2 linked regions of the Homo sapiens genome follow. The protein of the gene in region 1 purifies or fractionates together with the protein of each later gene. This does not show direct contact. Each region holds a gene or a part of one and is shown on either strand. Other genes may lie near its edges.

Region 1 (5,084 bases):
CAGGAAGAAGTTGAATCCCTGAATAGACAAATAACAAGTTCTGAAATTGAGGCAGTAATTAAATAGCCTACCAACCAAAAACAGCCCAGGACCAGATGGATTCACAGCTGAATTCTACCAGAGGTACCAGAGGTACAAAGAAAGAAAAAAAGAAAAACAGGAATTCATTTTATGAGGCCAGCATCATCCTGCTACCAAAACCTGGCAGAGACACCACAAAAAAAGAAAATTTCAGGCCAATATCCCTGATGAACATTGACATGAAAATCCTCAATAAAATACTGGAAAACTGAATCCAGCAGCACATCAAAAAGCTTATCCACCACAATCAAGTTGGCTTCATCCCTGGGATGCAACGCTTGTTCAACATATGCAAATCAATAAATGTAATCCATCACATAAACAGAACCAGTGACAAAAAGCACATGATTATCTCAATAGTCGCAGAAAAGGCCTTCTATAAAATTCAACACCCTTTCATGCTAAAAACTCTCAATAAACTAGGTATTGATGGAATGTATCTCAAAATAATATGAGCTATTTACGACAAACCCACAGCCAATATCATACTGAATGGGCAAAAGCTGGAAGCATTCCCTCTGAAAACCGGCACAAGACAAGGATGTCCTCTCTCACCACTCCTATTCAACACAGTATTGGAAGCTCTGGCCAGGGCAATCAGGCAAAAGAAATAAAGGGTATTCAAATAGGAAGAGAGGAAGTCAAATTGTCTCTGTTTGCAGATGACATGATTGTATATTTAGAAAACCCCATCATCTTAGCCAAAGCTGAAAAGCAACTTCAGCAAAGTCTCAGGATACAAAATCAATGTGCTAAAATCACAAGCATTTCTATACACCAATAATAGACAAACAGAGCCAAATCATGAGTGAATTCCCATTCACAATTGGTAAAAAGAGAATAAAATACCTAGGAATACAATTAACAAGGGATGTGAAGGATCTCTTTAAGGAGAACTAAAAACCACTGCTCAAGGAAATAAAAGAAGATATAAACAAATGGAAAAACATTCCATGCTCATGGATAGGAAGAATCAATATTGTGAAAATGGCCATACTGCCCAAAGTAATTTATAGATTCAATGCTAACCCCATCAAGCTACCATTGACTTTCTTCACAGAATTAGGAAAAACTACTACTTTAAATTTCATATGGGACCAAAAAAGAGCCCATATAGCCAAGACAGTCCTAAGCAAAAAACAAAGCTGGAGGCATCACGCTACCTGACTTCAAAATATACTACAAGGCTACAGTAACCAAAACAGCACAGTACTGATACCAAAACAGATATATAGACAAATGGAACAGAACAGAGGTCTCAGAAATAACACCACACATTTACAACCATCTGATCTTTGACAAACCTGACAAAACAAGCAATGGGGAAAGGATTCTCTATTTAATAAATGGGGTTGGGAAAACTGGCTAGCCATATGCAGAAAACTGAAACTGCACCCTTTCCTTACACCTTATTAACTCAAGATGGATTAAAGACTTAAATGTAAGACCTAAAATCATAAAAAACCCTAGAAGAAAACCTAGGCAATACCATTCAGGACATAGGCATGGGTAAAGACTTCATGACTAAAACACCAAAAAGCAATGGCAACAAAAGCCAAAATTGACAAATGGGATCTAATTAAACTAAAGAACTTCTGCACAGCAAAAGAAACTATCATCAAAGTGATGAACAGACAACCTACAGAATGGGAGAAAATGTTTGCAATCTATCCACCTGACAAAGGGATAATATCCAGAATCTACAAGGAACTTAAACAAATTTACAAGAAAAAAGAAAAACAAACAACTCCATCAAAAAGTGGGCAGAGGATATGAACAGACACTTCTCAAAAGAAGACATTTATGCAACCAACAAACATATGAAAAAAAAGCTCATCATCACTGGTTATTAGAGAAATGCAAATCAAAACCACAATGAGATGTAATCTCATGCCAGTTAGAATGGCGATCATTAAAAAGTCAGGAAACAACAGACGCTGGAGAGGATGTGGAGAAATAGGAACGTTTTTACACTGTTGGTGGGAGTATAAATTAGTTCAATCATTGTGGAAGACAGTGTGGCAATTCCTCAAGGACCTAGAACCAGAAATACCATTTGACCCAGCAATCTCATTACTGGGTATATACCCAAAGGATTATAAATCATTCTAGTATAAAGACACATGCACATGTATGTTTATTGCAGCACTATTCACAATAGCAAAGACTTCGAACCAAATGCCCATCAGTGATAGACTGCATAAAGAAAATGTGCCATGTACACACCATGGAATACTATGCAGCCATAAAAAGCATGAGTTCATGTCCTTTGCAGGGACATGAATGAAAGTGGAAACCATCATTCTCAGCAAACTAACACAGAAACAGAAAACCAAACACTGCATGTTCTCACTCATAAGTGGGAGTTGAAAAATGAGAACACATGGACACAGGGAGGGGAACATCACACACTGGGGCCTGTTGTGGGGTAGGGGTCTAGGGGAGGGATAGCATTAGGAGAAATACCTAATGTAGATGACAAGTTGATGGGTGCAGCAAGCCACCATGGCATGTTTATACCTATGTAACAAACCTACAAGTTCTGCACATAAAGTATAATAATAATAATAATAAAAAGAACCAGAGAAATACACATAGAACCTAAACAAGACCAAGTTCAAAATTCCAAAACTAGTCACAGCTAAACTAAGAGACCAAATCAGTTAGGAGAACCATTTGGGGCCAGTAAAATAACTGGTGTTTCCACCATTTCTTTTTAGATTAAGGAAATTTAGAAGCTATTCTTCCTAACTAATGAAGCCACTGCTATCGCATAAAGATGCCAGTGCCCCTCTCCTGCTCCTGAAGAACCTAATGAAGAGTTGAAAAGCAAACTGAGCAGAACTTTGTACCAGAGTATGGAGCAATGCTGTGCTCACAAGAGTCTATGCAGTTGGTTGATTCTGTCTCTCAGCTGGATGCTCTTTAAGAGAAATGGTCCTCTCTCCATTTATGATGCAAGTTCTTCTCCACTTTTCCACACATGTATGTACACACATGCATGCACACACACACAGCTCTTACACCTTACACAGGAGAAAGGGTAACTTGACCTAGGTTAACTAATAAGGTACTATTCCAGTAAAAGTGCAATTACAGAGTAAAAAGCCAAATCCAACAAATTTTAAAAGACTGGACAAAAAAAGCTATGCATAGCAAAGTAACTATAGATGAAAAGCCCAGAGGCTTGCGAGCTTACCAAGAATAATCCTGCTTGGGGAAAGGTCCAGGACTCCAGAAGGTGTTGAAACTAAATGAGTCCAGCTCTCCAGGAAATCTGGTGGCAATGTGGTGAGTCTGTTGCTTGATAAATCCAAGTAGGCAAGGTTCTTCAGATACCTGAGCGCCTCATTTGGCACACTGGTTATTTTGTTATTGTGCAAGTCCAGGGTCCTCAGAAGGGGCATGTCCAGCAGAGATGCCCAAGGGAAAGCAGCCAGAGAATTCCCATCCAAGCGCAACTCATGCAGTTGCTTCAGGTTGTAAAAGCTGCTGGGGTCAATGCTGGCCACGGAATTGTAAGTCACCCAGAGATACTGGAGCTCCACCAGGTAATAGAAGGCCTCCGCAGAGATTCTGCGGATGACAGTCTTCTCTATGCGAAGCTTCACAGTGTCCACGGGGAGGTTCGTAGGCAGCTCGTTCATATCCATGTCATTACATAGCACCAACCTAGTGTCACAACATGAACAATGTGAGGAAACTCACTTTCCAACACCCATTTGAAAAAAATACTTCTCATTTGAAAAATGTATCAATTTTCAGCTGGGCAGTGGCTCACGCCTGTAATCCCAGCACTTTGGGAGGCCGAGGAGGGCCTTGGTTCAAATCTAACCAAGGTCTAAGGTTTGCCACCTCCTCTGTGGCCATGGAAAACCACTTCACCAGTGTCTCAACCTCATTTTCCCATATGGCACTGTTATGGATGATTAATTACAATGGATGTAAAACTCTACAACTTCCTGGCACAGAATAGGTACTCAGTAGGTATTTGCTGCTACTGTCAACAACCTCGGTTTTACATGGAAAGTAACTGAGGCCCACCAACATTCAGTAACTTTCCAAGGTCACCCAGCTAGTGGGTTTCACAGCCACCTTTCAAAACCACTTCTGTCCAACTTAAAGTGCACCTCTTTAGGAAATGGCCCATTTTAAAAGAACCCCCTGTTAAAATAATAAATCAATCCTTGTTCAGAGAATAATTTATTTAGGTGAAAAAAAAAAGTGTTCACAGTACATGTTTAAAGTTGAACTCTGTTTTAATAACGTGACTTGCACATTGCTTTCTGCCTAAGGAATAAACCAGAAATTAGGAGTTGACCTTGAGCAAGTCACATTTTGATCTTGTTTGTTGGCACATATAAAACAGGCATAGAAAAACAACACTGGGCAATGTCCCAGCTGGGCAATGTGGCTCATGGCTGTAATCCCAGCACTTTGGGAGGTCAAGGTGGGCAGATCACCTGAGGTCAGATGTTTGAGACCAGCCTGGCCAACATGACGAAACCCCGACTCCACTAAAAATACAAAAATTAGCCAGGCGCGGTGGTAGGTACCTGTAATCCTACCTACTCAGGAGGCGGAGGTGGGAGAATCGCTTGAACCTGGGAGGCAGAGGTTGCAGTCAGCCAAGATCACGCCACTGCACTCCAGCCTGGGTGACAGAGCGAGACTCCATCTCAAAATAGAAAAGAAAGAAAGAAAGAAAGAAAGAAAGAAAGAAAGAAAGAAAGAAAGAAAGAAAGAAAGAAAGGAAGGAAGGAAGGAAGGAAGGAAGGAAGGAAGGAAGGAAGGAAGGAAGGAAGGAAGGAAGGAAGGAAGACAACACTGTCCCATGTGTAAATTTAAAGTATGAGGAATCTGAGAATTTAGATTCATTTTAGCCTGGAAAAAGACTTATCTCCTATGAGATACTCATCTGAATTATGAAAAATGAACAATAAGAAGTTTTGCAAAGTATCATCTAAATTATAGCACACTATAAATTTAGTAAATAATTACAA
Region 2 (4,312 bases), on another chromosome or scaffold:
CAGCACTTTGGGAGGCTGAGGTGGGAAGATCACTTGAACCCAGGAGTTTGAGACCAGCCTGGGCAACATGGCAAAACCCTGTCTACAAAAAATTGGCTGGGTATGGTAGTGTGTGCCTGTGGTCCCAGCTACCCAGGAGGCTGAGGTGGGAGCATCATTCATACTCTCTTCTATGCTGGTAGCTGTCTGCTGAACTGATACGAGATCATGTGTGATGTATGATGGAATGAGGGTGAAGAGTGAATCTAACTGGCTGGAATGAGAAGTACTCTCCATTTGCACCATGTTATAAATAATGAGAGTAACTGACAAACCCCAGGATCCTCAAAAATATTAATTTACTGGATGGGGCATTGCAATAAGAAGCACCTCAGCCAGCTGCGGTGACTCATGCCTATAATCCCAGCACTTTGGGAGGACAAGGCAAGTGGATCACCGGAGGTCAGGAGTTTGAGACCAGCCTGGCCAAAATGGCGAAACCCTGTCTCTACTAAAAATACAAAAAAAATTAGCCAGGCATGGTGACACGCACCTGTAATCCCAGCTACTCAGGAGGCTGAGGCAGGAGAATCACTTGAACCCAGGAGGCAGAGGTTGCAGTGGGCCGAGATTGAGCCATTGCACTCCACCCTGGGCAACAAGAGCGAAACTCCATCTCGGGTTAAAAAAAAAAAAAAGAAGCACTTGTAATGGAAGGCCGGGGTGAATCTATTTTCTTTAAAATTTATTTCAAAAGAATTGCATTCCAATAGCCATGGAATTATATCACTAAGGGTAAAGTGTTTTATTGCTGCTAGCCTTCTGAATTTCTACCACTCTGCATGTGATTTAATAAGGATATTTTCTCATCAACCACTGACTTGACACTAACACTTCTTTACACAGACCCAATGCACAATCTGTGCATCTAAACACTGCCATTTCCAGGAATGGAGCAATCCATTCTGAAAACATCAAAAATGTTTGTGTGCTGAGAACTATCACTAGTTTTATGTTAATGAACTTCCTCATTTTCCACCTAAGTTGGCAAGAACTGGCTGTTTATGGGATTTCTCCAACTCCCTACCACCACCACAAATTCAGGCTGCTACTTTAAGTTACTACCAAGTTCTCATTTCCCAATTCCTCTCTATTGTCTTAGAACTCTGTTAAATGCCAGCTCATGGTGACGGATTAGCTCTGCCAGAATACCCCGAGTAACTGGAAAAAGACACAGGGTTCTGCCCCTGGAGGCTGATTCAGGTCAGTCTGGGACTCAGAAAGCTGTACTTTTAAACACACGTCCCATGTGACTGAGATCAGTTTGGGAATGGCCAGTTCAGCTATTGGGCTTGACAGCCAAGCTGTCATGTGGCCTCCCTCCCTGTGAGCTACTCACCACACCACTGGGAAGAGGATGGCACCACAACACAACAGGTCGACCAGAAATAGAGAGTCCTTCCACAAGCCATATTCAGTCGTGCCCTCCTCGGTGGACTCTATGATGATGTAGGCTACATTTGCCAGGACCTACAGACATGAGAAGTTGCTGAGGCCCCAAAGCATGGGTGGACTGTTATGATGCTAGCAGCCCCAATGTGGGGTGTACACCTTGGCCTCCAGACCCACGATCTGCGACCACAGCATTCTTTCCAGTCCCACGTGCTCTTCCAGAACTCTGCCACTCCGCTATCAAGGAGAGTCTCTATGCCACCCCCCTGAATCTGCACAGGCCGTAATTGCTCTAATACAGTAAGATGGAAGTACTGCTGTGTGATTTCCAAGGTAGATAAAGCTTCCACCCAGCTCTCTTGGGACCTTTGGAGCCCTAAGCCTTCTTGTAAGAAGTCTGGCTACCCTGAAACTACCCTGCTGTACAGACCATGCAGAGATGGAAAGGCCCCCCCAGGAGCCCCGGCTGTCCCAGTCCCCACCTGAGCAAGCTTCTCAGCCCAGAAGACAGATGCGAGTGGAGACTTCAAGATGCTCCCAGCCATGGTGTGACTATGACCACAAGACCCAAGTCAGACCTACCCAGCTAGCCACTCTTGAATTCCTAACCCACAGAAACTGAGAGAGAGAATGACGGGTTATTGTCGTTTTAAGTCGCTGAGTTTTGGGGTGATTTGTTATGCAGCAGTAGATAACAGGGACACTTTGCTTTTCAGGTACCCCAAACCCAGTGGAGTCACTCAGGTGCTGGACTGCTGGATAGGTGGCACTTAACACCCTATTTAGCCACAATGCCCATACTTTTCAGGCCATGGTGCTCAGTGACAATAACTCATCTAAGTGCCAGACAATGGAACTGTGTTTTCAGAGACCAGAGGGTGAGCATGGCTGATTCCAGCCCTACAGCCTCATATACTCAGGCCCACTATTAAGCTCTGTACTCAGGCCCGTTATTAGGCTCTTAGCATAAGTCTTTATAAAAAGTCTTTCCACTGGCTAAACTGAGATGCCACAGAGCATAAGGGAAATTTACCACTTATAATACATCCTTTTGAAGATTACCACTGGGAATGGATGCAGAGGTTATCATTCCACCTATATACCCCATGAGAAGTCCCTGGTCCCAAATCTCTGCCTGACTTGCTGTAAAAGGTAATCCTCCACACTTTGCATGTAAAATCTGTAGTGCTATTATTTAGGAAGTCTCTAAGTTTAATTTCTCTTTCTATACAGGACTTAGAATCAAATTATCCGAAATTTCATTTAAAACTAATGCAAAAATTATCTGAAATTTCAGCCTCTCCAATGACCCCCAGCTTCTGGGTCCTTCCCTGTCCCACACTGCTCGTGAAGCCCTGTCTATCCAAAACACTAGCATCTGTGGCTCCATCTAAAAAGACAAAGTAGGGCTGGGTGCGGTGGCTCATACCCATAATCCCAGAAATTTGGGGAGCCAAGGCAGAAGGATTGCTTGAGCCCAGGAGTTTGACACCAGCCTGGGCAAAATAGTGAGACACGGCCTCTAATTAAAAAAAAAAAATTAAAAATTAGTCAGGTGTGATGGTGTACGTCTGTGGTCTCAGCTACTCGGGAGACTGAGGCAGGAGGATCGCCTGAGCCCAGGAGTTTAGGGCTGCAGTGAGCCATGATCACCACTGTACTCCAGCCCGGGCGACAGAGTGAGACCCTGTCTAAAAGTAAGAGGACAAAGTAGAAAACAAAGGCTTTCACATCTTAAATTCAAAATTCCATTTTGTCCTTAATTCACACACTGCATGAGAGACAGAATGTTCCCAGTGTTGAACAACGTGCCAAGAGTGTTCCTGAAACACCATTTTGCAGGGACATCATCTACTCCTTACTTAGAAACTTTCTGTCACTGCCCATGGCCAAAAGGAAGCAGTTTTAACTTTTCAGGCTGACATTTAAGGCCCTCCCAGACTAGTTCTATTGTCTAAATACTCATGACTTTCTTAATTTGTTAAATGTCCTTATCTTCTCAGACTGACATTCCATGGAACTCTGTGTGTCTGTCTTTCAGGGAAGCCCAGGACGGGCTTCCTGGAAGGCTATGCCCCACGACAGCCTGGTTCAGGCTGGTGGGGGGAGACTCTAGAGGGATGAGGGACTCTACTAAAGGGAAGAGGCACACGCAGCCGGGTGACAACCCAGTCTCCGTCATTCACAACTCCGAGACCTCGGCAGGCTGTAGGACTCAGTCTGGCTGAAGAAGTGACCACGGTGGCTCGACAGCCGAAAGACCGGCACAGTCCCTCAGCATGTTTTGCTTAGCAGACAGCAGGGTCATGTGTATTTACTGCCTCTGTCACATTCCTTTCCTTCAACACCCAGGCCAGCCCTATCTCTGTCACAAAGCCCTCCTTGATCCTTCCAACTTGAGTGCTTATTCTCTCCTTGGAAACACAGAGCAACTGGCCTGTCCCATTCATTTGATGTCAACACATGTTCCTCATTATTGAACGTAAGGGTGGATGAGGTCTGTTAGAACTCCGAGAGGAGCTCTGCTGCAAACTCTGCCAGAGTTGGGACGGCTGATCTGGGTGCCTCAGGAGTTGTCCCCTTCCACCCCCAACCTTCCACATTTACTTTGTGCTCCAAAATGTGAGAAAAGTTCACAGGGACAACTCTGTCAAACAGACGCTGTCTGGTCAAGCAGAGCAGGGTAGCTGTGCATCCCTGCTAAAACCTCTCTGTTCATTGTAAGTTCTTTACATCCAAGTTCTGCTTCCAGTAAGACAAGGCTCCTCCCGCAAAAGACTCACAGCCTTGTAAGGCTGGCCTTGGCCCTCGGCCCCAAACATGGTAAGGATTTAGGAAATGTTTGCCCCTCACGTCTACTACCATATTCTACCTGTGGAAA

Evidence for each region. The genes of interacting proteins can lie anywhere in the genome.
Region 2: the proteins of LRIT3 (region 1) and GPR107 purify together in Homo sapiens (affinity purification with mass spectrometry; one large-scale study listed by BioGRID and IntAct). This does not show direct contact.

The regions. Positions count from the first base shown.
Region 1 is NC_000004.12:109,850,173-109,855,256, reverse strand, and holds part of LRIT3 (leucine-rich repeat, immunoglobulin-like domain and transmembrane domain-containing protein 3 precursor), read right to left. Parts: intron 3,754-5,084; coding exon 3,281-3,753; intron 1-3,280. UniProt on the Homo sapiens protein: Plays a role in the synapse formation and synaptic transmission between cone photoreceptor cells and retinal bipolar cells.
Region 2 is NC_000009.12:130,101,617-130,105,928, reverse strand, and holds part of GPR107 (protein GPR107 isoform 3 precursor), read right to left. Parts: intron 1,510-4,312; coding exon 1,379-1,509; intron 1-1,378. UniProt on the Homo sapiens protein: Has been proposed to act as a receptor for neuronostatin, a peptide derived from the somatostatin/SST precursor.